Linked DNA regions of Homo sapiens: region 2 is linked to region 1. Evidence: fine-mapped expression QTL. Tissue or cell type: whole blood. Region 1 holds a variant in brackets; the other region holds the start of a gene. All regions are shown on one strand. Distances are from middle to middle.

Region 1 (2,680 bases):
AGAAACAGAACCCCAGAAAAACAAGGAGTGAGGCATGAGCGGGTTTCAGTTTCAGCACTGAGGGTGGGGGTCCTGGAATTGATTCAGGGTGGTCAGTTCTGATTCTGGGGGATAAGGTCATGTCCTTGGGAAGGCACATATTCCTGGAGTCCCATGGGGTCCCAAGAAGTCCCAGTATTCTTGCTGATGTGGAGTTTCTGAACTTGAATATTGGATCATGAGTCAGAACTTGAATCTGTAGCTAAGTTTAAGAGTTTGCTAGCTGGGTTGGGTTTAGGGGGTTGAGCTTGAGATTAGGAGGTACCTAGGGCTGAGGATTTAGGGGGAGTGGGGTACAAGGTTTCTTTCTTTTTTTTACTTTTGAAATGGAGTCTCGCTGTGTCACCCAGGCTGGACTGCAGTGGCGCGATCTCAGCTCACTGCAACCTCTGCCTCCCAGGTTTAAGGGATTCTCTTGCCTCAGACTCCTGAGTAGCTAGGATTACAAGCGCCTGCCACCACACCCAGCTTTTTTTTTTTTTTAATGTATTTTTAGTAGAGAGAGGGTTTCGCCATGTTGGCCAGGCTGGTCTCGAACTCCTGACCTCAGGTGATCCGCCTGCCTTGGCCCCCCAAAGTGCTGGGATTACAGGCATGAGCCACGGCACCCAGCTGAGAAGGTGAATTTTAATCACGAGCTGAGGCTTGGGGTGAAAAGGAAGATCCCAGGGCTGGTTCTGGGGTTGGTTGTAAGGGGGATTTGGAGATGGTTGGAAGTGAAGTTCTGGAGGGAGCTGGTATGAGGTGAGGGCCTGGGCAAGGGAGCTGATTGGAGGGAAGGCTCTGGAGGGGACACAGAGGCCCCAGAACTCAGGCAATTTCTGGGATAGGTGAGGGGGTCAGGTGGGGTCCACGGCTGGGTTGGGTGTGTGTCTAGAGCTGGGGATCTGCATGCACCTGTCTGTTCCTCTCCCCACAGGCAGAAGCACGTGGCAGCCCTCCTCGACATCCGTGGCCTGCGCAACACAGCCGCCCGCCAGGAGATCCTGGCCGTGGCCCGGGACCTGGAACTCTCTGAGGAGGGAGCCCTGTCACCCCCTCGGGACCGTGCCTTCTTTGCAGACATCCCTGTGCCCCGCCCATCTTTCTGTCTCAGCCTCCCTCTCTTCCTGGGCCGCCTCCCCCTCTCCCGGCTGGCCAGGCCCAGTTTGGCCTGTCTGCCTCGGCCCCGGCCTCCGTCTCTAGCGCGACCTCGGGCCCAGCGCTGAGGGTCACCCAACCGCCGGCCTTAGTGACCCCATCTATGCTGCTGACAAGCCAACCTCCCGTACGGCGCCCCTCCTGACTCCCTGCCTGGGACCACACACCCCTGGGATAGAAAGACCCTTAGATGTCTTTTCACCCAACCCCAAACTCCCTGTACAGAAGGGAAACAAACGCCAGGCACGGTGGCTCATGCCTGTAATCCCAACACTTTGGGAGGCTGAGGCCGGAGGATTGCTTGAGCCCAGGAGTTCAAGACCAGCCTGGGCAACATAGTGAGACCTGCCCCCTATCTCTACAAAAAATAAAAAATTAGCTGGGCACGGTGGTGTGTGCCTGTAGTCCCAGCTACTGG[T/C]GAGGCTGAGGCTGGAGGATCACTGGAGTTCGAGGCTGCAGTGAGCTATGACTGTGCCACTGCACTCCAGCCTGGTCAACAAAGCAAGACCCTTTCTCAAAAAAAAAAAAAAAAAAAAAAGGTAGGGGGAAACAGAGGCCAAAGAGACAAAGCATTTTCCCAAGGCCATGAAGCCTGTTCCCAGCACCTCCCCTCCTGCCATAGCCCAGAGTGGTGAGTGTCGTTCTGGAAGTCTCTACAGAAATATCCCAGCTCCCCCGCCCCTTTCCCTCACCTCAAGGTCTGGCCCCAATCCAATGTATTAAGGAACGTTCGATACTTAGAATAAAGAGGTTTCTATTTAACACAAGGAAGGGCTGAGTCCTGAGTGTGTTGTGGGGAGGAAGGACCGGGGAAGCAGGGCCCCGGGCCAGTGGCTTCTCACACACCCAAGGCCGGGCTGGGCTCCAGCTCCTGGGCAGGGTAGTGGAGGTAGAGGGAGGCTGCATGTGCTGGGAGCGACGCCAACCCATGTACACCTCCTGGCTGTGTGGCTCTGAGGCCAGGCCTTCGCCACTCTGAGCCAGGGTCCCTCGTCTGGTCAATCTCAAAGTGCCTGTCCATTCCTGGTCCTGGTGGCTCCATCTTGGCACACCCTCCCCATCCATCCTTAGCCGGGAAGCTGCCCTGTCAGGAGAGGAAGGAGGTTGGGGGCAGGGCTGGCGGCATCCAGGGCGCCCTCCTGGGTTGACGCAGGAAAGTCTCGGGGTGGGAAAATTTCCAGCCTCTCACCCCCAGCCCCGCCGGATCCTAGTCCCCACGGAGACCTTGAGGTCACCTCCCTGCTGACTCCTGCCCCTCCGGCCTGGGCTGGACAGCCCGTGATGGATGTTTCCTGACTTGTGGGATTTTTTGTGTGTATGTGGTTTTTTTTTTTTTCCCTGAGAAGTCAGAAAGAGGAGGCAGCCAGGGGTTAGCACTGGGGCTGGGTTTGGAACTTCACGCATGCACATTTGAACTTGGGGAGGTAGAGACGAGGGACTCTCGGAGCCCAAGGCTGTGCTTCCTGACCCGAGGCAGGAAGCTGCCCCTCTCTGGGCTGAG
Region 2 (2,680 bases), 32 kb before region 1:
TTTTGTAGAGACGGGGTCTTGCTATATTATCAGGCTGGTCTTGATCTCCTGGGCTCAAGCAATCCCCCTGCCTTGGCTCCCAAAGTGCTGGAATTACAGGCATGAGCCACCACACATGGCCCTAGCCTTTTAAAGTAACCCTGACTCTCATACCCAACCCCACCCAGCACCAGCTCCAGCCCCAGCCCTCACTTCACTTGGCATCCCAACTCTAGCAGGAAGTCCATCTCCAAACCCACCTCCAACCCTCAGCTTCATTTAAATTCATTTAAATCTTGACTACTGAGGGCCAGGCACGCAGCTAGGCTTATAAAGATGAACAGGATCAACAAAGTGAGCTTTGCTGAGTTTATCTGCAAGGAATCCAGTTGCATCTGATAATTTCAGATTGTAGAAGGTGCAATAAAGAAATTGACAGGCTGGGCACAGTGGCTTACGCCTGTAATCCCAGCACTTTGGGAAGCCGAGGCAGGAGGATGGCTTGAGGCCAGGAGTTTGAGACCAGCCTGGAGAACCTAATGAGACCCGTGTCTCTACAAAAAATACAAAAATTAGCTGGGCATGGTGGTGCATGCCTGTAGTCCCAGCTACTCAGGAAGCTGAGGTGGGAGGATCTCTTGAGTCTGGGAGATCCAGGCTGCAGTAAGCTATTGTTACGCCACTGCACTCCAGCCTGGGCAACAGAGCAAGACTCTGTCTCAGGAAAAAAAAAAAGAAAAATAAATTGACAAAGCAGAGTGACGACTCTGTGAGACGGGACAGTGGAGAACAGAGGAAGAGACTGTGGGGCTGGAACTGGGATGATGAAAAGGAGGGCCTCATGCAGAGACCTGGGTACAGGGGCTTCTAGACAAAGAGAACCACAATTCCAAAGCCATGTCCAGTGCCCTCCTCCATAGGTCCCCCTCCCCAGCCCCTGGGCCCAGCAAAACTTCCCTCCTGGTCTTCAGCCCGTGGCAGGGAACTCTAGAGAGATGCGTGCCTGCCCCCCGGTTCTCATTCTAAGGCCTCGGGGCTTGCCCATGCTGGAGAGCAGCTCTGGGCTGGCGTCCAGCTTGGGGTGTCTCCCCGGGGCGCCCAGGATGGTGTTGTCACCTTGGGAGGCGTGAAGAGCATGCAGGAGTGGGCGGATTCCGGCCTGGAGCGGGGGTGAGGGTGGGGGCCCAGCTGTGGGCCTCGGCCTTCCCAGCCCAACCGCAGCCTGGCCTAAAAGGGCAGACAGATAATGAGTCCTTCCCGCCCCTGGCCCCAGAGAGGGAGGGGTTTCCTGACAGGAAATTGTCCTCCTCCGAGCACCCCCCCAACTCAGATCCAAGCTCCCAGCAGTCCTGGCTGAAGTAGCCTGGGGACAGGACAGCAGCGGGAACAGAAGGACGGGCAGGAGGACAGAGGTGAGTGTGCTGGGGACAGGGGGAAGGGGTCCCCCTTCCCCAGGGCAACTGGGAAAACAGTTGCCCTTAGTTGCACTGGACCAGAGCTGATGAGAACCTGTACCTTGAACCCAGCAGAGGCTGGGGGCAAAGAGAGAATCTGGGGCCTGACTCCAGAGGGGTGCTGGCGAGAAGGCAGAAAGGAGATGAAAATGAGAGGAGGGTGCAGGGGAGAATTTGAGGACTCGCGGGGTCCACAAAGGGTGCAAGGGAGCATTAGAAACCTTGGTGCCACCAAAGGAGAATAGAGATGAGATGACATTGGGTCGAATGTCCTGCGAGTCTGGGCGGGAAGACTGAGGCCAGGAAGGATCGGGTATTTGTTCTATCCCAAGAGATGGGGTCTCGGAGATGGGAGACAGGGACCAGGTAGGGATTGAGATCAAGCAGGAGAGACCGAGATCAGGTTGGGATTGGAGATGTGGATGAGCTTGCAGTGGTCTGGGCTGATGACAGGATTGTGTTTGGGGTCAAGGACTAGATTGGGGTTGCACTGGTTGGGGTTGGGCTTGGGGACATGCCATATGGAAAGACCGTTCTCTAATACAGATGCTGAGCGTTGGAGGTGATGGATTCCGCAAACCGAGGTCAGGGCCGCTGCAGAAGGTTAGGGACTCCGGGGAAAAGGCTGGCAGTGAGGAAGAGGAGGAGGGGCTCAAAGAGGGAAGCTCTGGTGGCCAAGACATCCTGCGGGCCTGAGAGGCTGGGGGCTTGAGGGATGCCTCGGAAGTGAGTCAGGGGCTGGGCACTGGGAGGCAGACAGAGGGTTGGAGGGGGCAGGATGTCAGCACCAGTTTGCAGAGGCGGGTGTTGGAGCCAGGAAGGGGAAAGACGTCGGAGACAGTTTTGGGAAAATGTTGCAGCCAGGTTTGGGGATGTTGGATCCAGTTTGGAGGCGATATTGAAGCCAGGTGGGGGAAAGTCAGATGTAGTCCGGGCAAGGTTGACTTCAATTGGAGGGAAATTCGAGCCTGAAATTTTGAGAGGAAGATGGAGACAGTTATGGGGTGGAGGGGGGATGATGGAGCCATTTTGGGATGAGGCATGTGGATGCCAGTTCAGAGGATGAAAGAGAAATCAAGGCTGGGTGTGGTGGCTCATGACTGTAATCCCAGCACTTTGGGAGGCTGGGGCAGGTGGATCGCTTGAACTCAGGAGTTGACCAACCTGGGCAACAGGGCGAAACCTCATCTCTACTAAAAATACAAAAATTAGCCAGGTGTGGTGACTTGCACTTGTACTCCCAGCTA

What was found. PIP is the estimated chance that this variant, and not a neighbour inherited with it, causes the effect.
Region 2: it holds the start of EXOC3L2, and the variant in region 1 is fine-mapped to the expression of EXOC3L2 in whole blood (INTERVAL, PIP 0.99).

The regions. Positions count from the first base shown.
Region 1 is chr19:45,211,636-45,214,315 of GRCh38, reverse strand. EXOC3L2 (exocyst complex component 3 like 2) reads left to right here. Exons shown (of 12, transcript NM_001382422.1): 12 at 959-1,946. The coding sequence ends at 1,247. It also overlaps a transcript of BLOC1S3 not described here. Among named protein-coding and RNA genes, the nearest start is that of EXOC3L2, 32 kb to the left of the region's middle. The variant T/C (reference allele first, on the strand shown) is at 1,598.
Region 2 is chr19:45,244,052-45,246,731 of GRCh38, reverse strand. EXOC3L2 (exocyst complex component 3 like 2) reads left to right here and starts at 1,325. Exons shown (of 12, transcript NM_001382422.1): 1 at 1,325-1,391. RefSeq lists an enhancer at 635-1,631.